2 linked regions of the Homo sapiens genome follow. The protein of the gene in region 1 interacts with the protein of each later gene in a biochemical or structural test. Each region holds a gene or a part of one and is shown on either strand. Other genes may lie near its edges.

Region 1 (17,070 bases):
AGAGACGGGGTTTCACCATGTTGGCCAGAATGGCCTTAATTTCTTGACCTCATGATCCGGCCGCCTCAGCCTCCCGAAGTGCTGGGATTACAGGCGTGAGCCACTGCGCCCAGCCCAGAAGGTTCTTAATCTAAGGGAATATGCATGTTGAATCCTGAAATAGTTGGATTAGTCATATATGTACATGTATGTCCTATGACTTTTATATGTACTTCTACATGATTTTTCAATTTTTAGGAATAGAAAGTACTGTGATCCCAATTTAGTAATTGTGGTTCATAAGTAAATAAGTATTGAACACTATATGTTTTTATAGGAATTCTGTTAGCCATAGATTTTTTTTTTTTTTAGACGGAGTTTTGCTCTTGTTGCCCAGGGTGGAGTGCAGTGGCGCGATCTCAGCTCTGCCTCTGGGGTTCAAGCTATTCTCCTGCCTCATCCTCCCGAGTAACTGGGATTACAGGCGCCCACCATCAAGCCCAGCTAATTTTTTGTACTTTTAATGGAGACGGGGTTTCACCATGTTGGCCAGGCTGGTCTTGAACTCCTGACCTCAGGTTATCCGCCCACTTCAGCCTCCCAAAGTGCTGGGATTACAGGCATGAGCCACCGCTTCCAGCCTGCTATAGATAATTTTTTTTAAACCTGTTTATATTGTGAATTTAACCCCATTCATTCCGCAACCTGTTACATATAAGACACCATTCTAGGCTCTAGGGATATAGCAGTGAACAAAAAAGGCAAAGTTTCTGCTCCTGTGGAATTCATATTCTGGTAGGCAAGCAGATATTTTATTGAGCAAGCATTGATTTAGTAGCATATAGAAAGCCAAAGCAGAGGGGAGAAGATTTAAGAGGGGTGGAGGGTGCTATGCTGCTTTATATAGAGTGGGCAGGGAAGTCCTCTCTGAAATAACCTTGGACAGAGACTTAAGTGAAATAAGAGAATGAACTCAGTTGGTATGTGAGGAGTAGGATTTGAACAGAAGAAACAGCAAGTGCAAAGGCCCTGAGGTAGAAGGATGCTTAATATGGAGGCCAGTGGGACCAAAGTGGAATGAGCAAGGAGAGTAATAGGGTAAGGTCCAGATTTTGACTTCTGCTTGGCGATACCACTGGAGGGTTTGTTTCAGTAGAATGATCTGACTTACCTTTCTATTTTCTGGGTTAAGTTGGGCAAACGTGGAAGCAAGGATGCCAGTTAGAAGGCTACTGCAGCAATCTCAATGGAAGGTGATGGCAGCTGGATCAGGTCAGTGTCAGTAGAAGTGGAAAAAGTGGATCCTGGATATATTTTGAAGAGAGAACTAGAAGGATGAGGAGGTGTCAGGAACCAAGAGAGTTCAACCTGAAACATGTTGATTGTGATACGTATTCGATGCCTATGTAGAGACCTCACATAGGCCCTTGGTTCTACTGGCCTGAATCTCACAGAAGAGACCTGGATGGAAATGTGAATTTGGGCACTGTTGGTATGTAGAAGGTTTTTAAGTGGAGGAAGTTGGCCCTAGCTTGAATCATGGATGGCTTAACCACAGTTACAGGAGGAAGGGCGGAGAGAGTGCTGGTACAAAGCGTAGGCATGGTGGTGGGCACAGGCGAAAGGTCTCCTGTGATTTTGTCTATTTTCTCAGTGAAACTAAAGCAACTTCATCCATCATCTGAGAGTGAGGGGGTAGGAGGCCATGTGAAGTTGTCTTTGGGGGACAGATCAGGGAAATGTAGCAGGATGCCAGGTGGCACTTAAGGATTCACTTGAGAGTAGTGTTTATGGCTTTAAAACTAGTCCTATGAGCATAGTAGAGTGGGGTTTTTCCCTCTCACTATGTTCAGCAGCCTGGGTGGGGTTACAGAGTAGGTAGATGGTAGGATTTAACTCCACTGGGGTCATGCCAGGCAATGGCAACAAGCAAGGGGAGGAGTAGAGAATCAGTTGAGGACATGGGGTTTGGGGGAGGGCAAAAGTGGTCAGAACAATAGATTGTTGGCCCCAACAGGGTAAAGAATTATTGGAGTCTGGAGGGAGAGAGCTGCAAACTTACGAGGTGGTCGGAGAGCAGGATGCTTACAATTGAGTTATGGAGGTGGTGCAGATATTGGTAATGACGAGATTCACGGTTGACCTGGGCATGAATGGCTAAAGTTGGTTGTAAGACAAGGGCATTGGAAGGAAACAGGCCCAGACACTGAGAGGCCAGGGAATTGGAGGAATCCTCCATGTCAATAATGAAATTATCAAGAATCGGGCCAGGGATCATGGTGGAGAGATGGAGAGTCAGTGAGCCTGGTTGCTGAAGTCTTCAAGGAATGAAGGGAAGTGAGGTCTGTAGAAGACTGAAGAAGGGTTGTGAGAGGGGTCAGGGTGTGAGCTTCAGAAGCACTGGAGGGAGGCTGAATAGTCTGCAGCAGTGGCAAGCACCATACCCACATCTAGGCCCAGCAGGGTGCAGTGGGGAGATAGAAAGCAGCCCTGGGAGAATGGGCCACAGAGGCCCAGCCAAGAGTGCATTTTAATTTAGGTTAGGAAAGGGAAAGGAACTTATATGAGGTACCTAGAGTATCAGATTCATAGAGACAAGACAGTAGAATGGTGGGTGCCAGGGGCTGAGGGGTCGAGGAAGTGGAGAAGGGGGAGTTAGTGTTTTTCATAGGTACAGAGTTTCAGTTTGGAATGACGAAAAGTTCTAGAGGTAGAAAGGGGTGATGGTTGCCCAACAGTGTGGGTGTAATTAATGCCACTGAACTTGTATACTTAAAAATGGTTAAAGCGGGAAATTTTATGCCATTCATATTTTACCGCAATGAAAAAAAAAATGAAAGGAATGATCAGAGAAGGGGATGAGGAAGTAAAGGGAATGGTAGATCTTGGGTTGGGGGGGCCAAGGGAGATCAGTTGGGTGGCAGTGGAGGGTGAGCCATAGGGGGTCATAGAAAATCTGGTGGCTTTGCCTTTAGCGGTGAGTGAGGTGAGCAGGGCTGTGGGGCACAGGGACTGCCTCCACGTCTCTGGCCAATTGTGGGGACCAGGTTCTGAGTGCCCAGGGTGAGGGCGTCTTCCCTGAGGCCCAGGGAATAATGGGGGTTCTTTGTTACTCTGCAACTTTGTTTCCTGAGAATCTGTTATAACGCCTGGCATATACAACACGCAAATATATGTTTGAATGAGTAAAAATGAATTCTATCCAAAGAAAGAAAACAGCAAGTGAGAATGTAATGGCCTTGCCAAAAATCCAAATAAATTTCCCCCAAAAGTGATGAAGAATGAAAAGAAGCTAGAATTGGTCTCTGGGGGAGAAAAAGGATTTTTGGCAAATGTGCAGAAGAACTTATTGTGAAATTGAGGTTTTAGACTGGAAGAAATAAAATCATAAACAGAAGTCTACAAATATGTAAAGGGTTATTGGAATTGAAATATTTTCCTACCTAGATACGTGATTTCATGGTGAATTTATGATTTGCAAGTAGATTATCCTATTTTATGCTAAATGAGATTCTTGGCTTTATAAAATGTTAAAACTTGGTCATTCATTTTCAACTCATTTTAAAGGGTTGAAACCATAATACCGTCTTAATAGGTTTGTAGTCTGGGCGTGGTGGCTCCCGCCTGTAATCCCAGTGCTTTGGGATGCCAACATGGGTAAATCACCTGATGTCAGGAGTTCCAGACCAGCGTGCCAACATGGTGAAACCCCATCTCTACTAAAAATACAAAAAACTAGCCAGGCATGGTGGCAGGTGCCTATAATCCCAGCTACTTGGGAGGCTGAATCAGAATCGCTTGAACCCGGGAGGCGGAGGTTGCAGTGAGCCGACATCGCGCCATTACACTCCAGCCTGGGCAACAAGAGCGAAACTCCGTCTCAAAAAAAAAAAAAAAAAAAAACAACAACTAAAAACCAAAATAGGTGTGTGTCTTTCCAACCTAAAGATACTGAATTACAGAAATCAATTCATTTATCAGTACTTACACCTAGAAACTGGAGAATATTGTGCCTGTATACATCTTTCGATCACAAGTAATTTTTAATTACTTATCTTTTTTAAAATGTACTTTTATATTGAGTTTAAGTGTTTTGTTTTTTCCCTAAAAGTTGAGATGGACCACTTTTTAAGGTTGCCGCCAAGCATAGATTTCTTTCGATAAAACAAAAAAAGTGCTGGCTGGTGGTCATCTTGCATTTTGAAACGTGTTCTGCAACTACCAGACCATTGTCATGCCCTGTGCTTCTTCTTCTTGTCGTTTTAGTGACAGCTATATTGTGCGTGTCAAGGCTGTGGTTATGACCAGAGATGACTCCAGCGGGGGATGGTTCCCACAGGAAGGAGGCGGGATCAGTCGCGTCGGGGTCTGTAAGGTCATGCACCCCGAAGGCAATGGACGAAGCGGCTTTCTCATCCATGGTGAACGACAGAAAGACAAACTGGTAATGGCAGACATACAACTCGTGGGTTAAATTAGTAACAACTGCTTTCTTTACGTTAAATCATAGTCCTCTTTCCTTAACGTATTTTTTTCTTTCTTTCTCTGACTTCAAACTCTTGCAAAAGCTTCAAAAGTTAGAACCCCGGAGCTGGTGCCAAATTGTAAAACGTGACTGTCCTTTCCAGCAAAGTCTCTTTTGACCACACGCTTTATCCGAGATGCTTAGAAGTATATTTGGCTGTTTTATTTGCATCTTTGATTAAGATGTCTATCATTGTAAAAAGGTATTCAAAACAAAAGTGTACTCTTTTATTATTATGAATCACATTGTACTGAGCTGTGAAGTCAGTGTTTTAAAAATGTAGAGTTTATTCATGGAGCATGCCATTGAGGTTTGGATGGTGGCAGGTAAAACAGAAAGGCAAGATGTCATCTGACATTAGGCTACTTATAAATAAATGTTTATCTAGCTTTTATTTCATGCCCTAATGAATAAAACATGCTTGGAAAAAGAAAGTAACAAGAAGTAGTGGTATCATACTTTGTGGGTTTTTTTGGGTTTTTTTTTTTTTTTTTTTTTTTTGAGACGGAGTCTCGCTCTGTCACCTAGGCTGGAGTGCAGTGGCATGATATTGGCTCCCTGCAACCTCCACCTCCCAGGTTCAAGCAATTCTCCTGCTGAGTAGCTGGGACTACAGGTGCGCGCCACTACACCCAGCTAGTTTTTGTATCTTTAGTAGAGACAGAGTTTCACCATATTGGCTAGGTTGGTCTCGAACTCCTGACCTCAGGTGATCCACCCACCTCGGCCTCCCAAAATGCTGGGATTACAGGCATGAGCCACCGTGCCTGGCCCATACTTCTATAAATTATTATCCATGCTTATAGATAAATACTTTGGAAAGTAATCATCACCTCCCAAGGGTGGGGGATTGACACTTCATAATATATGGTCTTATGGAGGAACTCAAATGTTCAGTTCTATGTTATGAAGGAATCTATGATAGGAAGGAAAATTGAATGTCCAAAATCTGTTTTAAATTCATGGCCCTAAACATGGAAGAACACTACTTCTATCTGTATTTGATCATGGAGTGTATACTCAGAAGCCAACAGATGATTCAGAATGTGCAGGATTGTGCAGGATCCCACAGAGAAAATGCAAAGACACCACAAGAATATGTCAGTGTTACATCTGAGACCCTTTACAGCAGCATCTGTTGGGTTTTATGTGTTAAGTGTACAAATTTAACCTTCTTTTGCAAGCACTTCTTATAGTTTAAAAAAATTTAGAAAATAGATAAGACAGAACAATTTGTAAATGTTACATGTGGGTTAACAGAAATGTTATTTTCACATTTGATTTCATTTCTGAAAATTTAAAGGGAGAAGACAGCTAATTTTAAGAAGTATTTGTTCAGGAAATACCCTATATAATAGTCAAATAATGAAAACATTCTTGTTTATAATATTTTTGCAATAAAAAGCAATGTAACTATATTACCAATAAAAAGTAAAATGACTACCATTTATCTAGCATTTACCATGTACTAAGTATAATCCAGCCCTTCGGTTAGATCTCTCATTGTATCCTTACAGCAGCCTGTATAATTGTAATTGAAGAAATTATGATTCAGAAAGATTCCTTGTTCTTAGTGGCCTGTTTTGGGGGCCTGGAACCAGTATTTGATTCTCTTGTCACTCTGACCCCAAAACTGAACAACCACCCTTAGCCCTTTGATGTAATTTTCCCACTTTGTACTTTTTTTTAAAAAGGCAGGATCTCACTTTGTTGCCCAGGCTGGCCTCCAACTCCTGGGCTTCAAATGGTCCTCCCACCTCATCCTCCAGAGTAGCTGGGACTACAGACACATGCCACTGTGCCCAGCCATATTTTTAAACAGTTGTGTATCTTATTTATTTTGCCTTAAACATTCTCTTTCAAGACTATCATGAAACAACATTGCCCTAACATTCTCATATGAAATTTTCCATGTTGCTGATATCAGTTTGATGTTTCATTATTTGACCACCTCCTTAGTGTCAAATATTAAGGTTCTTCCCCTCACCTCAGTGTTAGGAATACACCTATGTGAATTTTCCACGTTTATTATAGTTTTGGAATAATTTAGGAGGTCATATTTTTATGACTTTTGATACATGTGCAAGGAGCTGCTACCAGTATTAGAATTTCCTTTAACACATTGAGGGATATAAAATATACATACATATATAATATACGTATACAAAATATTCATACATATATAATATATATACAAAATATACATACATATAATATACGTATACAAAATATACATACATATATACATATACAAAATATACATACATATAATATACGTATACAAAATATACATACATAATATACGTATACAAAATATACATACATAATATACGTATACAAAATATACATACATAATATACGTATACAAAATATACATACATAATATACGTATACAAAATATACATACATAATATACGTATACAAAATATACATACATAATATACGTATATAAAATATACATACATAATATATGTATATAAAATATACATATAAAATCTTATTGCTTGCTAATTAATAAAATGTTTTTCTGTTTGTTAAACAGTTATAACTGTGAATTAATTATCTGTTGATGTCCTTTGTATATTTACTTATCAGGGCCTTATTTTTCTCCTTCATGTGTATGCCCTCTTGCATAATAAAGATATGAATCTCCATCTGTCATATTTGCTGCAAGTATATTTTTATAATCTGTTGCTTGCCCTTTTAGTTCTTATTTTTATATATATAGAAATTTTTTTCCACTTCTTTGGTCTTTTTGTTTTTAGGGTTATTCTGTGTTTTACCAGATTATCTTGTCTGAAGGCTTATGTTTTTAGAGCTACTTTTTCCTGGTATTTCTATGGTTTGTCATAGAATACTTCAACCTAAAGTGGCCCTTTAGCTTATCTAATCTAGTCACTGGTAAGACATTACTAGTGCATAGTAAACTTTTACCATTTGTTCCAGGTCCTTTAAGTAAATAACCTCAGTTAAATTCCTGCAACATTTTGAAGGAGGAAGATACTACTATTTCCACATTGTAGTGGGGAAACTCAATGCTCTAAGAAGTGAGCCACGTCCTTGGCATGGGGTGGGCAGTGTCACCAGCAGAGCCTGCGTTTGAGCTCATTTCTTTGCAAAATCAAAGCCTGTCCCTTCACACTAACTTGGCATAATATTAGGGCAGTCCAGTCCTCTGTCCGCCCCCGCTGAGTCGTGGACCAACTGCTGTTGTTTGTTGCTAGTGTACACAGATTGCACTATCCTAAAAGTGTGCCTCATCCCCTCCCCCATCATGTTTCTCCATTTCCCCACCCCTTTTCCTGTCCCCTTTACATTCCTTGACTCCACACTTGTGGGCTTTTATATTCACTAGTACCTAAGTCACACACCCATATGTCCTGCTGTACTTCTCTGTCTCTCCATCCCTCACCTTGCCTGTTTCACACTCCAGGAAATTCTGGATTTCTGTACTGAGTGGTACTTAACCCCTCCCCTCACACCCATACCCAGCACACTCATGCACATGCACACACACACACACACACACACACGCCCGTACCCAGTCTCCCTTCCTCTCTCTCTCTCACTGCCCTCCCCCCCACCACCCCGCCCCTTTCTCTCTCCTTAGAGATATGATAACTCTTCCTTTGGCCTCTCAAGCTTCTCTAATGCAATGCTAGTGCCCACTGGAGACCATGCGCCCACATGGGAGCTCTGCAAATGTGGTGAGTTATTGAGGAACCCCCCTCTAAAAGGTGGAATGGCAAAGAAAAGATGAAGATTATTTTTAGGATATATTGGATGGATTGTATCAGAGTTCCCAGTATTCCAACTAGGGCATGAAGTGCTCTTTCAGATAGAAACAGTGTTGTCAGTTTTTACAATGTAGTGCACATCTAGAATTCAGCACATTGTGGGAGTTTGTTTCGTTACATATTGAGGGCTGTTAACTACCATTGTTTCTGTGGGAAAAGTCTCTGTTCCAGACAACCATTCACGAGTAGTCAGGTAATTTTTTGGTAAGCTGGGGACAGTCAAGCCTGAGAAATTATATTTAAATTAAAATTTTCTGAGTTGAATCTCATTTTTAGATGGATTAGAGGAGTTTACTCCTGAAACAAATCTTATGAGAAACCTCTTTATGGAGACTAATCACAAAATCTAAGAGTTTGATCATTCCAGTCATTGCCCATGTGTAGGTCAGCGAGCATTCTCACATAACATTTGGTGGGAATTTGAGCTGGCAAAGCTCTTTGAAAAGCAATTTGGCAGGATTTTAATTTTAAATGTGCATATCTTTTTACCTAGCAGTTCACATCTAGAACACTATCCTTTAGAAAAAGACTTAAACACACAGAGATTTATGGACAGTAACAGTTCTTAAACTTTTTTGGTCTCAGGATCCCTTTACACTCCAAAATTTTATTCAGGACCTCAGAGAGCTTTTGGTTTGGTGAGTTACAGCTATTTATAACTTGCCATATTAGAAATTAAAATGGAAAAAATTTAAAACTTTTAATTAAACAGTATTGTTAATATAAATGACATTTTATGGCAAATAACTGTATAACTTTTCCAGAACAAAAGTAATTATGAGAAGAGTGGCATGGCTTTATGTTTTTGAAGATCTCATTAATATCTGGCTTACCAGAAAATAGCTGGATTCTGGTATCTGCTCCTGCTTTTAATCTGTAATATATTATTTTGGTTGAAGTATATAAAGAAAATACAGCTACTCACAGAGAAGGGGAGTTAGTAAGGGGAGAAATATTTTAATAGCCTTTTCAGACAATTGTAGATATTCTTCTTTGATACTACACTAAAACTCAACCATGTGGAATCTGAAATCTATCAATGGACCTTTCATACTCTGTTACATTACCACCCACTGGTTTATCTTTCACTTTCTTTTTTTTTTTTTTAGGATTTTTTTTTAATTTTATTTTATTTTTTATTGATCATTCTTGGGTGTTTCTCACAGAGGGGGATTTGGCAGGGTCATAGGACACTAGTGGAGGGAAGGTCAGCAGACAAACAAGTGAACAAAGGTCTCTGGTTTTCCTAGGCAGAGTGTTTGTGTCCCTGGGTACTTGAGATTAGGGAGTGGTGATGACTCTTAACGAGCATGCTGCCTTCAAGCATCTGTTTAACAAAGCACATCTTGCACCGCCCTTAATCCATTTAACCCTGAGTGGACACAGCACATGTTTCAGAGAGCACAGGGTTGGGGGTAAGGTCATAGATCAACAGGATCCCAAGGCAGAAGAATTTTTCTTGGTACAAAACAAAATGAAAAGTCGCCCATGTCTACTTCTTTCTACACAGACACGGCAACCATCCGATTTCTCAATCCTTTCCCCACCCTGCCCCCCCTTCCATTCCAGAAAACCGCCATCGTCATCATGGCCCATTCTCAATGAGCTGTTGGGCACACCTCCCAGACGGGGTGGTGGCTGGGCAGAGGGGCTCCCCACCTCCCAGTAGGGGCGGCCGGGCAGAGGCGCCCCTCAGCTCCTGGACCGGGCGGCTGGCCGGGAGGGGGCGCTGACCCCCCGCCCAACCTCCCTCCCGGACGGAGCGGCTGGCCCGGCGGGGGGCTGAGCCCCCCACCTCCCTCCCGGACGGGGCGGCTGGCCGGCCAGAGGGGCTCCTCACTTCCCAGTAGGGGCCGCCGGGCAGAGGCGCCCCTCACCTCCCGGACGGGGCGGCGGGGCAGAGGCGCTCCCCACATCTCAGACGATGGGCTGCCGGGCAGAGACGCTCCTCACTTCCTAGATGGGATGGCGGCCGGGAGGAGGCGCTCCTCACTTCCCAGGTGGGATGGCGGCCGGGCAGAGACGCTCCTCACTTTCCAGACTGGGCAGCCAGGCAGAGGGGCTCCTCACATCCCAGACGATGGGCAGCCAGGCAGAGACGCTCCTCACTTCCCAGACGGGGTGGCGGCCGGGCAGAGGCTGCAATCTCCGCACTTTGGGGGGCCAAGGCAGGCGGCTGGGAGGTGGAGGCCGTAGCGAGCCGAGATCACGCCACTGCACTCCAGCCTGGGCACCATTGAGCACTGAGTGAATGAGACTCCGTCTGCAATCCCGGCACCTCGGGAGGCCGAGGCTGGCGGATCACTCGCGGCTAGGAGCTGGAGACCAGTCCGGCCAACACAGCGAAACCCCGTCCCCACCAAAAAAACACAAAAACCAGTCAGGCGTGGCGGCGCGCGCCTGCAATCGCAGGCACTCGGCAGGCTGAGGCAGGAGAATCAGGCAGGGAGGCTGCAGCGAGCCGAGATGGCAGCAGTACAGTCCAGCTTTGGCCCGGCATGAGAGGGAGACCGTGGAAAGGAGAGGGAGAGGGAGACGGGAGAGGGAGAGGGAGACGGGAGAGGGAGAGGGAGACGGGAGAGGGAGAGGGAGACGGGAGAGGGAGACGGGAGAGGGAGAGGGAGACGGGAGAGGGAGAGGGAGACGGGAGAGGGAGAGGGAGACGGGAGACGGGAGAGGGAGACGGGAGAGGGAGAGGGACTCTTTCACTTTCAATAGATCTCTTACTCATCCCTGATTTTGTAACATCATGCACTGGTCACCTGAAAAATAGTGCTCCACTGAGTTAAGCAGATCTTCCAAATGTTGATACATTTTATTCTATAATATCAAAAAACTACATTTCTTAGTATTGCCACTAACTCATTAATATAAAAAAACTACATTTCTTAATATCGCCACTGACTCATTAATATCAAAAAAACTACATTTTTTAATATTGCCACTGACTCATTAGAAAAGTCTTTAAGTACCAGGAAGCTGTCTAGAATTCTAATTTATACTTCAAATATAGATAAGGATGTAAATTGCAGCATTGCCTTCAAGGTGACCAATTCTTACTGACATAAATGTCCGTTAGTATGGAGAATGGTTGAATAAATCTAATACATCCATACAGATGAATTAAACAATTATTTTACCTTCCTGTATCTCTATGACATATTTTTAAGGAAAATAAAAAGCAAGTTAAAAACAACTTATAGGTGTGGCTACATTTAAACACAGTTGCCCTTACACAGAAACTTACCTGTGTATATGTAAAGAAGCCACAAAATGGAAACTGGGATTGTGCCCGCTCTACTGACAGTGGGGAACTCGACAGAGAGGGATGTTGACGGTGGAGGGGAGAGATGAGTAGGAATGGAGTCCTCATGTCTTCAGCTAATACTTAAATCTCCCACAACATGTATTTCTTGTGTAGTTTTTTTTTTCAAGTCTCGAACAAGAACATAATCACTTTTTTTCTCCGTATGCATCTTATTTAAACGGGTATTTTTTAAAGCCTTTCTCAAGTTTTAAGTTAGTGTCTAATTGTGTGCGTGCCAAAACTTCACCAGAGAGTTTATATCTGTTGGGAAGATTAAAGCATCTAAAACCTTTTCATTTTTGTCTTTAAACTTAGATACATATGATACTATTTTGCTTTAGAGGACATAAAGAGATGGTATCTGATTTCCCCCCTCACTTAATTTAGGTGGCTGAACTTATTTTACTCAAACTTTATTTTTTTTTTGAGACAGAGTCTTGCTCTTTCGCCCAGGCTGGACTGCAGTGGCACGATCTCGGCCCACTGCAAGCTCCGCCTCCCGGGTTCACGCTATTCTCCTGCCTCAGCCTCCCTAGTAGCTGGGACTACAGGTGCCCGCCACCATGCCCGGCTAATTTTTTGTATTTTTAGTAGAGATGAGGTTTCACCGTGTTAGCCACGATGGTCTCGATCTCCTGACCTCATGATCCGCCCGCCTCGGCCTCCCAAAGGGCTGGTATTACAGGCGTGAGCCACCGCGCCCGGCCATTTTACTTAAACTTTTCTAAGAAAATGTACCTTTGGAATAATTTCAAAGTTGGAAAATATCAACCAAAGACTAATTTTTTCACCCCCAAAATATGGAGAAACTAGGAGTCTTTGTTTTTAGAATACAAAAAGTTTATTTTGAGACTTTGAATTGAGACTATTAAATTCTAAAATAGATAACATTTGTTAAATTCTTGATTATTTGGATTTCCCCAATGTGGAATGGGGCTGGGCTGACATTTAATCATTGTGCTATTCTTAGGGGGAAATGGCTATAATAAGCAATTTAATCATAAATAGAATTATGGGAGGGAACTGTTGTCCGATCTCAATACAATGTAATAAAGTTAACTGCTTGGGACTACTATTTGATATACCAATTTGAATATTATTCTCATTTTTTTATTAAGTTAGGGAACATTCATTAGACAACCCTTAATTTATTTCTCGTTTGTTTTTTCCTTTTGTTGAGACAGAGTCTCACTCTGTCACCTGGGCTGGAGTGTAGTGGTGCACCTTCTCAGCTCACTGCAGCCTCAGCCTCCCAGGCTCAAGCGTTCCTCCCACCTCAATCTCCTGAGTAGCTGGGACTACAGATGTGTGCCACCACACCCAGCTAATTTTTGTATTTTAGTTAGAGACAGGGTCCTGCCATGTTGCCCAGGCTGGTCTCAAACTCCTGGGCTCAAGTGATCCTCTTGCCTCAGCCCCCAAAAGTGCTGGGATTACAGGCATGAGCCACTGTACTGGCCTCCTTCTTTTTGCTTTGATCTATTCTTAGAATTTATACTTATTTAAAGATATTCTCTAATTTATCTGTATACTAATTTAGGCAGGTCTTTACTCTTGTCCTTCATTTAGTCTAAATTAATAAGATCACATTGCGGTAAATGCAGATCTTTGCCAGAACAAGATTGGGCTATTAAAACTTAGCAAAATCATTATGGTGTTTGTAATGAAGCCATAGGAATAAATATTGTAAGTAGTCTGAGTTTTTTAATGAATAAAGAATGAAGTTTACGTTCAAATTATTGCAATGTTTCTTTTCTATAATATTAAATAAATTCTAGTATCTCTATCAACTGTGCTAGACGGGGTTATTTTATAATCTTGACTTTTTGTAGTCTAGTTAGGGGAACAAGACTAATACACATGAAACTGTTAAAGAATAGTTTGAAATCAGGTACTAAATTGTGAAGATGACAAGAAGGAGAATTGGAGTACATATAAAACTTGACAGGGAAGATATACTGGACAATGAATGTGAATTAGGTTTCTCATTTATTCAGTGTTTTCAGAGCATGTTCTTGTTCTCATTGATAACATTGGTGTTCTTTCCATCTTAGAGATAAAAAGATCAATCTACTCATTACAACTCAGTAAAAGCCAGTTCTGAGATTAAATTGCTAGAAACTTGAATATTGTTCTATTAATCCAAACATAAAGTTAATAGAGACCCAGATCAGGGTGGCAGCAACTGAAATGGGGTTGATATAAAAGCTGTTGAAGGAAAAATGAAATGGACCTGGTGATTAATAATACAGGAGATAGGCAGAGGAGGCAAAGATGACCACAGAGATGATGAGCCAGAGAAAAAGAGTGGAGAGGGATTGGTATTGCCAGAAGTTGGGAGAGGAGAAATTTTAGAGTAAAGTTAATTTTTCAACTTTTGGAATTTGGAGCCTCGGGGGAGGGAAGCTAGATGACCATCAATATAAAAACCCCAACATAAAAGCAGTAATCTGAAATACAGCCAAGACCCAAGACCTGAGCATCAACTTAGTGCCCTGCAGCCAGGAGGAAGAGGAATAACCGTGATGAAGAGAGTGTAGTGAAGGGGTACAACCAGGACAGTGGGGAGCAGCGAAGATCGGATGGTCAGCAGCCAAGCAAAGCCTCCTTTCCCATTGGAGAGACTCACAGATATGTGAAGGCAGGGGTTAGAGGGGTTTTGGTAGTTGCCACCAGTGATGGTTCCTAATTAGACTTCTGTAACCAGACATCATCATGGCTGTTCCACTAGTAACCAGCCTGTGTGTTTCCATCCTTCAGGTGGTATTGGAATGCTATGTAAGAAAGGACTTGGTCTACACCAAAGCCAATCCAACGTTTCATCACTGGAAGGTCGATAATAGGAAGTTTGGACTTACTTTCCAAAGCCCTGCTGATGCCCGAGCCTTTGACAGGGGAGTAAGGAAAGCAATCGAAGACCTTATAGAAGGTATTGAACTTGTCGCTGCATTCTTAGTGGGACTATGGAAATGTTCCAAATTATTTTTAATTCCAATAGTCTGCCATCATTTATTTGTGGTTTATTTGCGGGAGGGTTTGGGACCAGGTCAGTAGATGCCAAAACTTTTGGAATTTCCAAGGAGAGTAATTAAAGTGACAATTCAGGGAAAAGGAGATGGGTTTCAGAGTAAGGAGTAATCCCAATTGATTTTTAGACTCTGCTGTGAAAAAACAGGCAGGTTCTGGATTTCCATGTGCATGTATTTTTGACTGCTTTCACCTTGTCCTGACTATTGAAATGGCTTTGGTCTGGTCTGTCTTGGCTCAGAAGTAGAGAATGGATTCTGGCGGGCCCAGAAGGCTCCTGGCCTACCCACTGTCCTCCTGTAATCAGAGGCCCAGGGTGTACAGCTGCCACTGAAAAGGAAAGGGATCTGTGACCTCTGGAGCCCTGGTTCGGTTTAGGCCTTGGTCTATGGGTAAGTGAGTAGTAGGCATTGTGTTACATCTGATCGTGGCCTGGAGGGCCCTTGGGCAGTCAGTTCTCATGGTGGGCTTGACTAGAGTCCACAGATGCAAACACAAAAATTCTCCACTGCAGCACATCCAGGTATCAAATCAGAGGGTTAAAGAAGCCATAGACAGGGCCCTGTGAAGAAAGAAATATCAAGCAAGGCATGTTAATACCAAATTCAGATCTTGGGGAAATTAATCACAAAAGGATGTATGTTTCATTTGCTTAAGAAATAAAAGTGTTCTGAAGTCATTTTCTTCATTGTGGATTTGGGGGAAGAGGAAAAAAAGCAAGTCTTAAAAGACAAATTACTTAACATTATAATCAGTAGTAAGACAAGACTAGCTAGAACATGAATCCATAAACAAGTATGAGATAGCCAAAAAGAGATAATAAAAACCAGTGTTCAAATCATAGTTCTGACATAAGTGGCAAATATTTAAAATGTTATTAAACACAGCTTTTTCATGTTTAGAGAAAAAACAGCTCCTATATTATTGATAGACGTTCGCATTGTGTCCATGTACTTAATTGCACAACATTTCATTCTCCTACTTGTAATTTTTTTCTCTATATACATACTATCTAGCTTTTTTTTCCACCAGTTTTCCTAGAACATTGGTTGATTGGAGTAATTCAGAGTAGAGACAGCTCCCGAAAGACCAGTAGGAGTTGCACAGAACATACTATGGGACTGTTGTTTTTTCTCCTGCAGTCTCTCGTTGGAAATTTAAGTATTTCTCATCCTTTCTGAGCAATTGTTTTCATTTCAATTTCATGTAATAGCAAAATATTTTCTTTTTCTTTTTTTTTTTTTTTTGAGATGGAGTCTCCAGCCCAGGCTGGAGTGCAGTGGTGCCATCTCGGCTCACTGCAACCTCCGTCTCCCAGGTTCAAGCGATTCTCATGCCTCAGCCTCCCCAGTAGCTAGGATTACAGGCGCCCGCCATCACACCCAGCTAATTTTTGTATTTTTAGTAGAGACAGGGTTTCACTATGTTGGCCAGGCTGGTCTTGAACTCCTGACCTCGTGATCTGCCGGCCTCAGCCTCCCAAAGTGCTCGGATTGCAGGCGTGAGCCACTGCGTCTGGCCAGCAAAATATTTTCTAAATGCATATTTTAAAAGATCTAACCAAGAAAAGGAAAAGATAGAGAATAAATTTCCCTTTTGGTATATCTGTCACTGATGCAATTTTAAATATGTCTTTCTTTTGGCCAATTAAGTTGATCCATGCATTATTGTCTGCTATTCAGGGTGGTGGGGGGAAGTAGGGCAGTTGTACCTGATTCGCATACCAGAATGAAGAAAAAGGTGAACAAGTAATTACATTGAACTCTAAAATCCAATTGGTTCCATGATGGAATAAGGAGGGTTTTCTAACAAGAGCTGTAATTTTGACTTGGAAAAACAAAGCAAACTCACTGATGCCTTGGTATTGCAAGAGGAAACCCCCTTGCACAGGTGTCCCCTTAGAAGGGAGCCCACAATTTGGGATTTAGAAATACAACATCTGAATTCAGAACTGGACACAACCATACAAGCTATTGAGCTAAAATGCCTTCATTGGTAGGTGAAAAGACCAGAGGAGCTAAATCCAGTTTACACAGTAGATTGTGGCAGGTCTCACTTAGGGGTTCCCCGTCCAGTGCTTTTCCCACTACACGGCTGGGACCTCAAGGTCACTACAGAGGCTGGGCTCGATGCATGTCCCTCAGAGGAGTGGGCAGCCTCTCCCCTCACCTCCTCCACAGTGCCTTTCTGTGTGCTTATTCTCTAGCAGCGAGTGCAGAAGTTTGAGAGATTAATTGGGAACAACAGCAGGCAAAGTTAATTTAGGGAGCATCCTGGCAAGAATCAATTAAAGAAGAGTAAATTAAAAGCACTCAATTCCCAGGTAACTTGTTTCTGTTGGTAATTCACATGCAAAAAGAATGGAATGTGGTTTTATTAAAATATACTTTTTTAAACGGTTGGATTTGATGTATCCTCTTGGGAAACACTTTTTA
Region 2 (17,070 bases), on another chromosome or scaffold:
AATTTAAAAAATTTTTTGTCATACATTACCCAGGCCGGTCATGAACTTGGTTTTGTTATTAAAACCACAAAAGTATTGTGTTGCTTTATTCCACAAAAACAAACAAAAAAACCCATAAAAGTAGGTTTTAAGATGGCAAATTAGGTAAGATTCTCCTTAACTGGGTTACTATTTTTCTGTTTTTTTTTTTTTCTTTTTTTTGAGGTGGAGTCTCGCTCTGTCACCAGGCTAGAGTGCAGTGATGCAATCTCGGCTCACTGCAAACTCCACCTCCCGGGTTCAAGCGATTCTCCTGCCTCAGCCTCCCGAGTAGCTGGGACTATAGGCGCACGCCACCACACCCAGCTAATTTTTGTATTTTTAGTAGAGATGGGGTTTCACTATGTTAGCCAAGATGGTCTCAATCTCTTGACCTCGTGATCTGCCGCCTCAGCCTCCCAAAGTGCTGGGATTACAGGTGTGAGCCACTGCGCCTAGTCTAATTGGTTTTTATACAAGACTCTCTCTATGGAATCTTAACTCAGGTTTCCAAAAAGGTTAATTCTAGACTAACAAAACTCAAGAAACTTAAAGATATGTCCTATAATTAAGCATTTACTTTTCCAATAAAAATAGTATTTTGGGGCCAGGCGCGGTGGCTCATGCCTGTAATCCCAGCATTTTGGGAGTCTGAGCTGAGCAGATCACCTGAGGTCAGGAGTTCGAGACCAGCCTGTCCAACATGGTGAAACCCCATCTCTACTAAAAATGCAAAAATTAGCTGGGCATGGTGGCATGCACCTGTAATCCCAGCTACTCAGGAGGCTGAGACAGGAGAATTGCTTGAATCCAGGAGGCGGAGGTTGCAATGAGCTGAGATGGCGCCACTGCACTCTAGCTTGGGCAACAAAGTGAGACTCTGTCTCAAAAAAAAAAAGAATAGTATTTTGGGGCGATGAGAGGTGGGTCATGCCTGTAATCCGAGCACTTTGGGAGGCTGAGGCAGATAACTTGGGCCCAGGAGTTCAAGACAAACCTGGGCAACACAGCAAGGCCCTGTCTCTATTAAAAAAAAAAAAAAAGTTTAAAAATCATCGGAGCATGGTGGTATTTTCCTGTAGTCCCAGCTACACAGGAGCCTGAGGTAGGAAGACCACTTGAGCCCAGGAAGTCAAGGCTGCAATCACACCACTGCACTCCAGCTATGTGAGCTGTGATCATACCACTGCACTCCAGCCTGGGTGACAGTGAGATCCCGTCTCAAAAAAATATATCGAAGTGATTTTTTTTAACAAGTGCTGTCAGTGAAAAAAAACTTTTTAAAAATAAAAATAACTAGCCAGGTGTGGTAGCTGGGTACAGTGGCTCACACCTGTTATACCAGCACTTTGGGAGGCTGAGGCAGGCAGATCACTTGAGGCTAGGAGATTAAGACTAGCCTGGCCAACATAGCGAAGCCCTATTTCTACTAAAAATACAAAAAACAGTTGGGTGTGGTGGCACATGCCTGTAATCCCAGCTATTAGTGTGGCTGAGGTATGAGAATTGCTTGAATCCAGGAGGCGGAGGCTGCAGTGAGCTGAGATTGTACCACTGCACTCCAGTCTGGGTGACAGAGCAAGACTCAAAAACAAACAAACAAAACCAGCCAAGTGTGGTGATGCACACCTGTGGTCCCAACTACTCAGGAGGCTGAAGTGGGAGAACTGCTTGAGCCTGGGACGTTGAGGGGGCAGTAAGCCATAATTGCACCACTGTGCTCCAGCCTCTATGACAGAATGACACACGTGTCGCTGGGCGCAGTGGCTCATGCCTGTAATCCCAGCACTTTGGGAGGCTAAGGCAGGTGGATCATGAGGTCAAGAGATTGAGACCACCCTGGACAACATGGTGAAACCCCATCTCTACTAAAAATACAAAAATTAGCTGGGTGTGGTGGCGCATGCCCGTAGTCCCAGCTACTCGGGAGGCTGAGGCAGGAGAACTGCTTGAACCCGGGAGGTGGAGGTTACAGTGAGCCAAGGTCGCGCCACTGCACTCCAGCCTGGCAACAGAGCAAGACTCCATCTCAAAAAACAACAACAAAAGGAATGACACACACGTCAAAGAAAAAAAGAGGCCGGGCGTGATGGCTCACACCTCTAATCCTAGCACTTTGGGAGGCTGAGGTGGATGGGTTGCTTAAGCCTAGAAGTTCAAGACTAGCCTGGGCAACATGGTAAAACCCTGTCTCAAAAAAAAAAAGACGCCAGGCGCAGTGGCTCACGCCTGTAATCCCAGCACTTTGGGAGGCCAAGGCAAGAGGATCACCGGAGGTCAGGAGTTCGAGATGAGCCTGGCCAACATGGTGAAACGCCGTCTCTACTAAAAATACAAAAATTAGCTGGGCATGGTGGCATACACCTGTAATCCCAGCTATTAGGAAGGCTGAAGCAGGAACATCACTTGAACCTGGGAGGTGTAGGCTGCTGGTAGCCAAGATCGCACCACTGTACTCCAGCATGAGCAACAGGGCGAGACTCCGTCGCAAAAAAAAAAGAAAAAAAGCATTCAATGGGTAACTACATCTGAGGTGATGGATGTGTTAATTAACTTGATTGTGGTAATCATTTCACAATGTATACATATTTCAAAACATCACATTTTATACACATTTTTATATTTAAACATACAAATTTTTAAAAATTAGAAACTAAAAACAAAAAAAAAAGCATTCCATGTCCAAAAAGTGGCTGTCATCTCTGCCTTAAACATAACATTGTATGGGCTATAGAGAACAGAGTGACATAGGCTGTGCACAGTGGCTCATGCCTGTAATCCCAGCACCTTGGCAGGCCAAGGCAGGCGAATCACTTGGGTAAGGAGTTTGAGACCAGCCTGGCCAACAAGGCGAAACCCTGTCTCTACTAAAAACTACAAAATAAATTAGCTGGGTGTGGTGGCGCACACCTGTAATCCCAGCTACTTGGGAAACTGAGGCATGAGACTCACTTGAACCCCAGAGGTGGAGGTTGCAGTGAGCCAAGATTGCGCCACCGCACTCCAGCCTGAGCGACAGAGTGAGACTCTGTCTCAAAAAAAAAAAAAAAAAAAAAAAAGGAGAGAACAGAGTGAGGGAAAGAGGTGAAAAATGTGAACCAGTAAACATAGTTCTAGAACAGGCATGGTGGTGCACACCCATAGTCCCAGCTACTCGGGAGGCTGAGGCAGCAGGATCACTTGAGCCCAGCAGTTCAAGGCTGGCCTGGGTAACATAGCAAGACCCAGCCTCTTTAGGAAAAAAAAAAGGGGGGCATCAAGAGTTTTTTGGGTTTTTTTTGTCTTTGAGATGGAGTTTCCCTCTTGTTGCCCAGGCTGGAGTGCAATGGCGTGATCTCAGCTCACTGTAACCTCTGCCTCCCAGGTTCAAATGATTCTCCTGCCTTGGCCTCCCAAGTAGCTGGGATTATAGGCATGCACCACCACACCTGGCTAATTTTTTGTATTTAGTAGAGATGAGGTTTCACCATCATGGTCAGGCTGGTCTTGAACTGCTGACCTTGGGTGATCCGCCTGCCTCAGTCTCCCAAAGTGCTGGGATTACAGGCATGAGCCACTGCACCCGGCCAAGATATTTGTTTTTTGGTTTGTTTGTTTTTTTTGTTTTGAGACAGAGTCTCACTGTCGCCCAGGCTGGAGTGCAGTGGCACGATCTCGGCTCACTGCAAGCTCCGCCTCCGGGGTTCACGCCATTCTCCTGCCTCAGCCTCCCAAGTAGCTGGGACTACAGGCACCCGCCCACGCCCGGCTGTTTTGTATTTTTAGTAGAGACAGGGTTTCACCACGTTAGCCAGGATGGTCTTGATCTCCTGACCTCGTGATCCACCCACCTCGGCCTCCCAAAGTGCTGGGATTACAGGCGTGAGCCACCACGCCTGGCCAGTTATTTGTATTTTTAAACACTAGAACAGTAGCACAAAGACCAGCAAAGAGATGGGACTGTAACTGAGAAGGACCTTTTTATTATGAATTGCCTTTTGCTGAGTGTCGTGCCCATTCATCAGTCTCCCTATAAACAGGTTTCACTGTGTTTATACGTACTAGTCTCTCCCCATAACTAATGGAATTCAGGTTTGAGTTTCAGTCAATAAATATTTTAGGCCAGACGCAGTGGCTCATGCCTATAATCCCAGCACTTGGGAGGCCAAGGCCAGCAGATTGCTTGAGCCCAAGAGTTCCAGACCAGCCTGGGAAACATGGTGAAACCCTGTCTCTAAGAAAAATATAAAAAGTTAGCCGGGCGTGGTGACGTGTTTCTGTAGTTCCAGCTACTCGGGAGGCTGAGGTGGGAGGATCACTTAAGCCTGGGAGGTGAAGACTGCAGCAACCCCAGATTGTGCCACTGCACACCAGCCTGGATGACAGAGCACAACCTCATCTCAAAAAAAGAAAAAAAACCAACCCATAATAATATTTTTTAAATTATTTAAAAATGAGATTAAATAATCATTACCTTAAGCGCTTCTTCATATTCTCCTAAAAGAACAAAAAATATACACCATGATACTTCTTCACACACCCCAAAAGATTCTATTATTTTAAAATTATTTTTATTTTGTACACATCCATTCATTCATTCAAGAACCAAAGATTCCATAAGATTAAGGATAGCCAATCCTAAAGATGGACTGTACAACATGAGGAACATATTATAGTTAAATAATCGTAAATTATATTCATGATTTTTGCTAAATGAGTAGATTATGGCTGGTTTCTGGGGAGGGCTCAGGGCACCACAGGGCCACTATAATGAGATGATAGATATGTTAATTTGCTTCACTACAGTAACCATTGCCACATAACATTTTGGTCAACCATGTGTATGATGGTGATCCCATAAGATTATAATGCCACATTTTTACTGTACCTTTTCTATGTTTAGATATGCAAATACCATTGTGTTTCAACTGTCTATAGTATACAGCACAGTAACATGCTCTACAGGTTCGCAGCCTATAAGCAATAGGTTATACCATATATCCTAGGTGTGTACTAGGCTATACCATCTAGGTTTGTGTAAGTACACTCTATGATGTCCATATAATGACAAAATCACCTAATTGATGCATTTCTCAGTACAAATCTCTGTCATTAAGCGATGCATTACTGTATATGTATTTCATAACATCATGTTGTGCACCTTCAATATATACAATAAAAATTTGTTAAATGTACAGCTAATCCTGACTTTAAAGAATTCTTAGCTTATTATATATGAACAGCAACTATCTTTTTGCTGACAAACTCCCTTTTTGTTGCAAACAGCATCTACTGTAGATCAGTTCTTCCCCTTAAATCCCTCCTTCATCACTACTGGGAATCTTCCAGTTACAAAATCTCAACCCAGGTCCCTCACATTTACGCACTGAGAGTTCAATGTTAATACTATCATTTCACCTGATTAAATTAAGATTTTAGGGGCTATCGTGGGAAACTAATCTTCAACTATAACATGGTTCCTATGGGAAAATGCACTCCAAGCTCTGAACATCTGATAAATAAACTTTTGGAATACCACTTGTTTTATAAGTTGATATTAACATATATACCAAGTCAGAAACAAATGCAACACCATGGGAATACTTATATGTGTTGAACTGGGAGGCATATTAATTTCAGAGGACTGGCATCTTAAATATGAGAACCTCCCATTAAAGCTGTCCTTAGGGTCCATTCAAAGGCATCATCCTATATATAAAAAACTGCTATACAATAAAATCCCCTAGGTAACTAATGTCCATCAGTGCAATGTCACTCTAAAATTAATACTGCAATAAGGTTTGAGTATAAATAGAAATGCCTCAATGAGCAGATTAAGGTTTTTAAACAAGGCTGAACAGACTCTCTTAGGGACTCACCTTGACTGTTGATGGATACCTATAAAAGGAAAAAAAGCAACAGTGAATTATAAGTGTCTCATCAGTTGAGCATTTCTGTTACTAGGACCAGCCCCATAGGACAGACAAAAACTCAGGCCAAGCGTTCAGCTTTTCCATATCACTTGCTAGTCATGAATAACACTTAAGAAATTTTATTGCTTATCTACTGTGCCCTCCTTTATTTCAGATACATTAAAAGGCAGTGCAATATAACAGTTAGGAGCTTGAGTTCTACAGCCAGAGGGTATGGACTGAACGGCTACTTTACTACTTCCAAGTTTTTGTGCATTTGGACAAGTTATTTTCACCTCTCTGTGCCTCAGTTTCCTCATGAGTAAAATAGTGATGATAATAATGTACTCAATACATGGTACTGTGGCTAGTCTGACACACTGTAACCACTCAATAAAGCTTAGCCATTAGCCTGAGCAACAAAGTGAGATTCCATCCCTCCAAAGAATTAAAAAATTTTGCCAGATGCAGAGAGGTATGTCCTAGCTACCCAGAAGGCTGAGATGGGAGGATTCCTTGAACCCAGGAGCTCTAGGTTGCAGCAAGCTATGCCAATGCACACCAGCCTGGGCAACAGAGTGAGACCCTCTTTAAAAAAAAAAAAAAAAAAAGCTTAGCCATTATATTTGTATTATTATAAACTAAGTGGTAGCTTGTGCTATATGTGAACTTAAGGTCACTATATAATTTTAAAAGTTATCTTGGCCAGGTGTGGTAGCTCACAACTGTAATCCCAGCACTTTGGGAGTCCGAGGTGGGCTGATCGCTTGAGCCCAGGAGTTCGAGACCAGCTTGGCCAACATGGTGAAATACCGTCTCTACTAAAAATACAAAAATTAGCCAGGCGTGGTGGTATACACCTGTAATCCCAGCTACTCAGAAGGCTGAGACAGGAGAATCACTTGAACCCAGGAGCTGGAGGTTGCAGTGAGCAGAGATCGCACCACTGCACTCCAGCCTAGGTTATGGAGTGAGGCTTCATCTCACAAAAAAAAAAAAAGAAAAAAAAAAAAGGTTCTCTCAGGCCAGGCCAGGCATGGTGGGTGTCTCACACCTATAATCCCAGCACTTTGGGAGGCTGAGGTGGGAGGACTGCTTGGGCCCAGGAGTTCAAGACTGGCCTGAGCAACATAGTGAGACCCTGTTTCCTTTTTTTTTTTTTAAGTGAAAGTTATCTCTGAGATATTCTTCAGTGTTGCTTCTCCATTTCTCAACTCCATCTCAGATGCTGCAAGTCTTCTTAGAATATTCAGTTATCAAATATATTTAAACCACCACACAAATAAGCTAAACACTATTTTGAATTATTAAAGCCCATATCACTGGAGAAATAAGATCCCTATTCTGAACACCTAGCAATAAGTGCCATAATATATTTTACCTCTTCATTTTCCTCATCCAGGTATTTTATTTGAATAGTATTCAGATCAAATGAAACTTTTACCTATAAAAGAGATACATATTTAAAGGCAGGTTATAATGTACACAGAAGTCAAAGTAAAAAAAACCCACAAAATCAAAAGACAAACAACAAACAACCTTAATAACCCATAACAAAGGGTTAATATCTGCAACACACCCAGAGTACCAGCAAAACTGCTAATGATACAATTAACAACCCAGGTAAAAATATACATAAAATTCATACAAGAGGAAATCAGAACACCTAACAAATACATCAGAAGACTTTCAAACTTTCTGGTGGTCAGAACAATGCAAATTGAAGCAATGAGATGACATCTCATCAGAATACCAAACTGTGTGTGTGTGTGTGTGTGTGTGTGTGTGTGTGTGTGTGTGTGTGTGTTTTGGGTGGGGTGTGGGGTAGGGAACAGCAAATGTTTTTTAAAGCCATAACATCCAGTGTTGTCAAAACTTCAGGACACTGTCATGTATTTCTGTGTGCTGCTACAATTGTTCTGCAAAGCATTTGGCAGAATCTATTAAAATTTCAAATAAAATGCTTTGTGACCCATTAATCTCACATTTGTATAGGACAGAGTTTATCCTGTAGAACAGTGTATAAGTTATGTGTATAGATGGATATCTCCTGAAGTTTCAAGATAAGAAAAAAAAAAAACGAAAAATATCTTTTTTTTTTTTTTTTTGAGATGGGTCTCACTCTGTCGCTCAGGCTGGATTATAGTGGCTTGATCTTGGCTCACTGCAGCCTCAACCTCCAGCACTCAAGCAATTCGCCCACCTCAACCTCCGGAGTAGCTGGAACCACAGGTGCCTGCTACCAGGCCCAGCTAATTTTTGTATTTTTTTGGTAGAGATGGGGTTTTACCATGTTGCCCAGTCTGGTCTCAAACTCCTGAGCTGAAGTGGTCCACCCATCTTGGCCTCCCAAAGTGCTGGGATTCTAGGCGTGTGCCACTGTGCCTGGCCAAATAATGTTTATAGTATGATCCTAGTATGATATCTGCATGAACATGGAAAATTTAAAGTACATACAGGGCTGTTAACATTGGTTACCCAAAGAAGGTGGGAGTAACAGATGAGGGGGGGGAGAATGGAGGGCTATTAACTGCTTGAGATGGTTTCTCTTCTTAAAATGGGCATGTATTATACTTATACAATTTAAAATTTACAAGGAAGAAAAAAGGCAAGCTGTCAGCTCATTTAACTACTAGGAAAAGAAAGATAACTGATTTTCACATCTTTTGGCAAACAAGATCTAACTTCTTTCTGAATCCAATCTTTTTTTTTTTTTTGAGACGGGTCTCACTGTCACTGATAGGACAGTATGAACAGGTATTTGCTGGAAGGCAGACAACTACCTCAGATCATCTTTTAAGATCTACCATTTCTTTCCCTTTTTAGTTATCATCAGATATAACCAGGTAAACGTAGATTTTTACCAAAGGGTTTCAGAGAGAAACACAGTCAACACAGGAAGTAAAACATTCACCACTGCAAACTGAACAAAAACAGAAGAGTACAAAGGGCAAACCAAGAGGAGGAAAAGCCTTAGCAAAAAAACGGAACAGGTGAACTGCTGTCTAAGCAGGTATGAAAGTTTTTCCTGCTCAACTCTGAGATACTCAACCTCTGACCTAGCAATAAAAACAATTGATAGGCTCTTGCAAAACACAAGTTATATCCTTGTGCAAAACACAAGTCATATCCTCACACAAGAGAACATTTCCTTGGGATCTGGTTGGGTGGAGTCCACACCAATTCACTCCTCATACTGGTTCTAAAATTAATAGGTTTTCTAAATCCTATCTCACTAAAAACAATTTTACCTTCCCTTTCTAAAATGTTCAAAAGGAAATTTATGTGTTGGTTCCCTTTATTGGGGCACATCTCATATATGAATACTGAAACCCTATCAAAAGCAATTTTCCAAAAGGCCCAGAAATGGTAACTATGACAGACTTCACAGCTATGAAACAACACTGCTAAAAATAGCTACCTTTGGAAAAAATAACCATGCTTAAACCAAGGAGAAACAAAATAAAGTAACACTCACCATAGCTTCGATATCAGCCCAAGTTGTATTTTCTGGATCAGAAACCAGAAAGCTTTGAATTTCATTTTTAAAAGTCACATTTAGAGTAACCTGTGGTTCCATGCTGTGAGGCTAGGGTTGAGAAGGTTGGTGGGAGAGAGAGAAAAACACATTAGAAAGGGTTCTATAAGTTGCACTAAAAGTTCACTCAGCAAATACTTGTGAGGACCCAATATGGGCTGGGCTTGGGAGACAGCAATGAACAAAAGAAACACTGTCCCTGTTCTTACGAAACTTACCATCACTGTTAAATAGGAATTGTTTCAGGAAAGAAAGATAGGCTAAAACCATGCCATAAAGACTTGTACTTAAGTCACAAAAATTATTCTTGAAGTTATTAGGAACTTCCACATGTTGGAAACATGTGGAAACAGAAGTATGCTGAAAGTATTTAAATTTTGACCACATTCCCAGAAATCATCTAGCATTTGTAAAATCCTTACGGTACTTTATGATGACTGGTTAACTAAACAAATACTTACTAGTAGCAGGACATACCAACATGGATAAGAGAGATAAGGTCTCTGCCCTCAGGGAACTTGTATTCTTGTATGACTTGAGAGTGACATTCTACATTTTTCTTGCAGAAGGAGGGTTGTCCTAACTTGAGAACCTAGGTTTTCTACCAGTTTTACGAACTTACAGGCCAAAACACTAGCCAAGAAACTACACAGAGGTAGCATTCAATGCCCTCCATCCAAGTTACTATGTTTTTTCACAATCTACTGATTTTTTATTTTATTTTATTTATTTATTTATTTTTGAGACGGAGTCTCGCTCTATCGCCCCAGGCTGGGGTGCAGTGGCACGATCTCAGCTCACTGCAACCTCCACCTCCTGGGTTCACGCCATTCTCCTGCCTCAGCCTCTCGAGTAGCTGGGGTGCCCGCCACCACATCCGGCTAATTTTTTTTTTTTTTTTTGTATTTTTGGTAGGGACGGGGTTTCACCGTGTTAGGCAAAATGGTCTCGATCTCCTGACCTCATGATCTGCCTGCCTTGGCCTTCCAAAATGCTGGGATTACAGGCATGAGCCACCGCACCTGGCCTTGTACTGATTTTTTAAATGGGGGATTTCAAACATATATAAAAGTGGAGAGTAATAAACACTTAGTTAAACCAACAATCAACTCAAGGCTATCCTCATTCACATATACCCCCGCATCTCCCACTTCTGCCCCAACAATGAACTGACCATAGTCAACTAATGTTTTAACCAAACTATAATAATATAATTATTTTATATTATTGTATTTATTTATTTTGAGATAGAGTCTTGTTCTGTCGTCCAGGCTCAAGTGCAGTGGCACAATCTTGGCTCACTGCAACCTCCACCTTCTGGTTTCAAGCGATTCTCTCACCTCAGCCTCCTGAGTAGCTGGGACTACAGGCGCCCGCCACCACGCCTGGCTAATTTTTTTGTATTTTTAGTAGAGACGGGGTTTCACCGTGATAGCCAGGATGGTCTCGATCTCCTGACCTCGTGATTCCACCCACCTCGGCCTCCCAAAGTGCTGGGATTACAGGCGTGAGCCACCATGCCCGGACTATTTTTTAAAATATTTTTATGGGAAAATTTAAATCTATACAAAAGTAGAGAGAATATAATGAATCCCTATGGACCCATAAGCTAGCTTCTTTCATAATTATCAACTCAGGACCAATTTGCTGTAACCAAAGGTTTACAGCAATACCCTTTCCCTACTAGATTATTTTGACAGACATCTATGCTTTTATCCATTAAGAATTGAGTATGTACCTCTAAAAGATAAGAATTTTTTAAAAACAGTCTAGATATCATTATCATGCCTAACAAGTTAACAATTCCTTAATCAGATTTCTATTCTGATCATTATGTTTTTAATTAAGGATTTTGTTTACTGATGAATGGTTACGTTTAACTGGTTTTTATGACTTTATGAAAAAATAGCTTAGGTTGAGAGGAACAAGATATGAAAAAATAGCTTAGGTTGAGAGGAACAAGATTAAGTCCCAGGGATTTACAGCGTGGTCTGCGGGGGTGGGGGTGGGGGGCAGAGGGGAGGCGGAGGAGCACACAAACTGGGAAGACTTAGCTTCCAGACATACCTCCGGCCCATTACTAGACATAAAACTGTGAGCAGGTCAGTTCGCTTTTGAGCTTCGGTTCTTTAACCTATAAAATAGGTCTAATACGTCTGCTTTGACTATCTCACAGTGTTACCATAAGGATCAAATTAAAAATGTGTACGCAAGTTCTTTCAAAATGTCATTCAAATATAAAAAATATGATAATAAAGGCCAAGCACAGTGGCTCATGTCTGTAATTCCAGCATTTTGGGAAGCAGAGGCAGGCAGATCGTTTGAGTCGAGTTTGAGACCAGCCTAGCCAACATGGTGAAACCTCGTCCCTACTAAAAATACAAAAATTAGCTGCGTGTAGTGGCGCAGGCCTTTAATCCCAGCTACTCAGGAGGCTGAGGCAGGAGAATTGCTTGAACCTGGGAGGCAAGGTTGCAGTGAGCCAAGATCATGCCACTGCACTCTCGCCTGGGTGATAGAGCGAGACTCTGTCTCAAAAATAAAATAAAATAAAAAACTGGACGGGTGTGGTGGCTGATGCTGGTAATCTTAGCACTTTGGGAGGCTGAGGCGGAAGGATCATGAGCCTAGGAGTTCAAGACCAGCCTGGGCAACAAAGCCAGACCCTGTCTCCTTAAAAAAATTAAGTTCAATTAAACATTTTAAAAAATAATAGGGCCGGATGTGGTGGCTCACGCCTGTAATCCCAGCACTTTGGGAGGCCGAGGTGGGTGGATCACGAGGTCAGGAGATCGAGACCATCCTGGCTAACACGGTGAAACCCCGTCTCTACTAAAAATACAAAAAATTTAGCCAGGCGTGGTGGTGGGCGCCCGTAGTTCCAGCTACTCGGGAGGCTGAGGCAGGAGAATGGCGTGAACCTGGGAGGTGGAGCTTGCAGTGAGCCAAGATCGCGCCAATGCACTCCAGCCTGGGCGACAGAGCAAGACTCCATCTCAAATAAATAAATAAATAATAATAAACCAGTCTTTAGAACCATAAACCTGTACTGTTTTCCACAATGTAATGCACTGCCCTGTAAAATACTACAATTAAGACTGTCATTTAAAGGCACTTTTTTGAAACCCTAAGACAATTATCCCCCAATTTTCTCCATTCTTTGTTTCTACCAAGAACCAAGTTCACCACCAAAATAATATTAGTCTCTTAACAACAATCCTGCTGACATCTAGTATTCATTCATATGAAATGTAATTATTGGGGTCCTTAAAATTTGAGAATCTTTGTCAATTCCCCAGGACCTTAGGCAAAAAATCAAGGAAATGAAGTGACTCAGTCCGCCAAAAGTGGGTATTCTGAAATATCACTTTCCAACTTCAAGAAACACACTTCCCTACTTGTGAAGGAAATGAATCTTCCTCTCTTTTTCTCAAATTACACAATTGGAAATTTAGATACTCTGGAGCTCCTCCAGCTGGTGGGCCAACTAAGAGAAAACAGGAAGTGGGAGATTCTAGCTTGGCTGGACCATATCCAGGTCTTCATAAGGAACTCTCTTTGGCTGACATGTAAAAAAATTCTTTCAGCAGGAGCATTAATCTTAAACGTGTGTAAACACCAAAGCTATGGTTAACCCTATCTGCCCCTTAGGTCTACAGCCAGTAGAGTCAGATAGCTGGGTCTTAGGCCTTCAGCTTTCATAACTGGCATTATTGTAAGTCCATGCCACTGACTCACCTTTGCTTGGCACAAGTTAGCTTTTCCTCCACGTCGATTTTTTTTTCAGCCTCAACAAAATCCCTTTAATGAAACAGACCTGGCAACCTGAGCTTTGATTACTGTCTCCACCAGAGGCCTTTACAAGCCAAGTTATCCAGGCTTTAAAATGTGTGACCTGAGGCCGGGAGCGGTGGCTTATACCTGTAATCCCAGCACTTTGGGAGGCCAAGGCACGAGGATCGCTTGAGCTCAGCAGTTCAAGCCCAGCCTGGGTTGGTCTTTGAGAAAGCAAGACTCTGTCTCAAAAAAGTGTGGCCTGAAAGCTGAGTGTTTGACAAAAAGGAAAAACAGTGCCTTTCCAAAACCGAAGGTCCCTAACCAAGGAGATCTCTTTAAGGTCTCGAAAAAACGAGGATGGGATGAGAAGGATGTGTAAGTAGTGTCATTTTTTTACTTGCAGAGTTCATCCTAGTCTTCCAGTTTTCGTTTCCTAGCACTCCATGTTCCCAAGACAGTGTCACTACCCCGAGGGCTCTCTCATTTTCTTTGCCTAGGCCCTCATTCCACTGGGGAGTCGTGGCCTTCCATCAGTAGAAGCCGGATGTTCTGACCCACAGACTCTCCAACTCTCCGGCGCTTCTCGCCAACTCGGTCCCTCTGAACATGAAGGGCTCTCTCATCCTGTCACTAAAAAGATTAGCTGTCCCGAAACACGGAAAAAGTCGCCCCTCTTCTTTGCAGGATTCCTCCCTTGAACTTCCCCAAACCCTCTTAGCGTGACGTGACCCCACCCCTAGGTAACCGCAGCTGCTTCCTTACCAGCTTCCCGCCCCCGGGGGGCGCCTGCCGGAGGCCAATGCAAGGACCGTCCGCTACCGGCTCTGCCGCTATCCCTGTGGGGTGAATCTAACATGGCGGATAAAGACAGTAACTAGTCCCCTGTTTCTCCGAGTGTTCGCCAAGATGATTGGCTCTCACCACTTGTCCCTCAAAACGACCACGCCATTGATTGGTGGAGATTGCGTCGATGGGGCGGGGCAGAAGCAACCTGAACCCGAACAACAATAACAAACATTGAGGCTGAGGGGCGGAACTAGGAGTGCGCAGATGTGGGCCAGAGCGGATTTCCCCTTCCCCAGGCAAATTCGGCGCCCACTGCGTCCCCGCAGGCCACTGACCTTAGAGGACTACTTGCCCGAGACTCGTGGGGCTGGATGGGAATCGTAGTCTTCCTAGGAGTTGTAGGTATCTTTTTTTGGCCTAGTCTCTGCTCTCAAGATAGGAGAACATAACAACACTCCAATCCATTACTGTTGACATGTATAAGCCCGCGGAGGTCTCCAATCTATCCACTGGATTTCCGTGAGAATTGTGCCCGCTTTGGTATTGGATGTTCCTCTCCATAAGACTACAGTTTCCAAGGAACAGTGTGGCCAAGGCCTTTCGTTCCGCAATGCATGTTGGAAATAGTAGTTCTTTCCCTCCACCTCCCAACAATCCTTTTATTTACCTAAACTGGAGACCTCCATTAGGGCGGAAAGAGTGGGGTAATGGGACCTCTTCTTAAGACTGCTTTGGACACTATCTTACGCTGATATTCAGGCCTCAGGTGGCGATTCTGACCTTGGTACAGCAATTACTGTGACGTAATAAGCCGCAACTGGAAGCGTAGAGGCGAGAGGGCGGGCGCTTTACGGCGAACTCAGGTAGAATTCTTCCTTTTCCGTCTCTTTCTTTTTATGTCACCAGGGGAGGACTGGGTGGCCAACCCAGAGCCCCGAGAGATGCTAGGCTCTTTCTGTCCCGCCCTTCCTCTGACTGTGTCTTGATTTCCTATTCTGAGAGGCTATTGCTCAGCGGTTTCCGTGGCAACAGTAAAGCGTGGGAATTACAGATAAATTAAAACTGTGGAACCCCTTTCCTCGGCTGCCGCCAAGGTGTTCGGTCCTTCCGAGGAAGCTAAGGCCGCGTTGGGGTGAGACCCTCACTTCATCCGGTGAGTAGCACCGCGTCCGGCAGCCCCAGCCCCACACTCGCCCGCGCTATGGCCTCCGTCTCCCAGCTTGCCTGCATCTACTCTGCCCTCATTCTGCAGGACTATGAGGTGACCTTTACGGAGGATAAGATCAATGCCCTTATTAAAGCAGCCAGTGTAAATATTGAAACTTTTTGGCCTGGCTTGTTTGCAAAGGTCCTGGCCAACGTCAACATTGGGAGCCACATCTGCAGTGTAGAGGGGGGGAAAAAAACGTGACTGCGCGTCGTGAGCTCGCTGAGACGTTCTGGACGGGGGACAGGCCGTGGGGTTTCTCAGATAACTGGGCCCCTGGGCTCAGGAGGCCTGCACCCTCTGCTCTGGGTTAAGGTAGAAGAGCCCCGGGAAAGGGACAGGGGCCCAAGGGATGCTCCGGGGGACGGGCGGGGGAAAGTGAATTTCCGAAGCTAGGCAGATGGGTATTCTTATGCGAGGGGCGGGGGCGGAACCTGAGAGGCATAAGGCGTTGTGAACCCCCCGGGGAAGGGGGCAGTTTGTAGGTCTCGAGGGAAGCACTAAGGATCAGGTTGGGGGCACAGTGTGTCCGAGGAGGAATCCTCCTGATAGGAACTGGAATGTGCCTTGAAGGGGACACCATGTGTATAAGAACATCAGCTGGTCGCCGGGGATGGTGGCTTACGCCTGTATTCCTAGCACTTTGGGAGGCCAAGGCGGATGGATCACGAGGTCAGGAGTTCGAGACCAGCCTGACCATCGTGGTGAAACCCCGTCTCTACTAAAAATACAAAAATTAGCCGGGCGTGGTGGCGCGCGCCAGCTACTCAGGAGCTGAGGCAGGAGAATCGCTTGAACCCAGGAGGCGGAGGTTGCAGTGAGCCGAGATCGCGCCATTGCACTCCAGCCTGGGTGGCAGAACGACACTCCGTCTCAAAAACAAACAAAGAAATAAACACCGGCTGGTATATATGAGAAGATGGGCCCTTGCGGAAGAAGAAGTGCCAGGAATATGTCTGGGAAGGGGAGGAGACAGGATTTTGTGGGAGGGAGAACTTAAGAACTGGATCCATTTGTGCTATTGAGAAAGCGCAAGAGGGAAGTAGAGGAGCGTCAGTAGTAACAGATGCTGCCGGCAGGGATGTGCTTGAGGGGGATCCTGAGATGAGAGTGGGTCGCTGGGAAAGGCTAGGGGCAGGGAGGCCTTGATTGGTGTTGGTTTGGTCGTTGTTGATTTTGGTTTTATGCAAGAAAAAGAAAACAGCCAGAAGCATTGGAGAAAGCTCACCACTTACCCGGTCAGTCACTCCCCTGTAGCTTTCTCTTTCTTGGAGAAAGGAAAAGACCCAAAGGGTTGGAAGCAATATGTGAAAAAATACAGAATTTATATTGTCTAATTACAAAAAGCAACTTCTAGAACCTTTAAAGGATTTTGTATTATTCTAAAACCTTCCAAATCTTAAATTTACCTTATTTTATTTTATTTATTTTTGAGACGGAGCTTCGCTCTTGTTGCCCAGGCTGGAGTGTAATGGCGTGATTTGGGCTCACCGCAACCTCTGACTCGTGGGTTCAAGCGATTCTCCTGCCTCAGCTCCCGAGTAGCTGGGATTACACGCATGCACCACCATGCCTGGCTCATTTTTTTGTATTTTTAGTAGAAACGAGGTTTCTCCGTATTGGTCAGGCTGGTCTTGAACTCCCGACCTCAGGTCATCCGCCCGCCTCGGCCTCCCTAAGTGCTGTGATTACAGGCGTGAGCCACCACGCCCAGCCCAATTTACCTTATTTTAAAATGATAAAATGAAGTTGTCATTTTTCTAAACCTTTTTAAAAGATACATGTTTTTCTAATGTGTTAAAGTTCATTGGAACAGAAAGAGATAGATTTATCTGCTGTTTGCGTTGAAGAAG

Evidence for each region.
Region 2: the proteins of SPRED2 (region 1) and NBR1 form a complex in vitro, tested with the Homo sapiens proteins (one study listed by BioGRID).

What each region holds. Positions count from the first base shown.
Region 1 is NC_000002.12:65,332,072-65,349,141, reverse strand, and holds part of SPRED2 (sprouty-related, EVH1 domain-containing protein 2), read left to right. Parts: intron 1-4,245; coding exon 4,246-4,423; intron 4,424-14,368; coding exon 14,369-14,537; intron 14,538-14,554; exon of another isoform or gene 14,555-15,023; coding exon of another isoform or gene 15,024-15,027; intron 15,028-17,070. UniProt on the Homo sapiens protein: Negatively regulates Ras signaling pathways and downstream activation of MAP kinases. Recruits and translocates NF1 to the cell membrane, thereby enabling NF1-dependent hydrolysis of active GTP-bound Ras to inactive GDP-bound Ras.
Region 2 is NC_000017.11:43,168,219-43,185,288, reverse strand, and holds the start of NBR1 (next to BRCA1 gene 1 protein), read right to left. Parts: upstream 14,076-17,070; 5' UTR 13,987-14,075; exon of another isoform or gene 13,186-13,986; intron 9,499-13,185; 5' UTR 9,490-9,498; coding exon 9,388-9,489; intron 7,354-9,387; coding exon 7,291-7,353; intron 5,896-7,290; coding exon 5,877-5,895; intron 4,495-5,876; coding exon 4,472-4,494; intron 1-4,471. UniProt on the Homo sapiens protein: Ubiquitin-binding autophagy adapter that participates in different processes including host defense or intracellular homeostasis.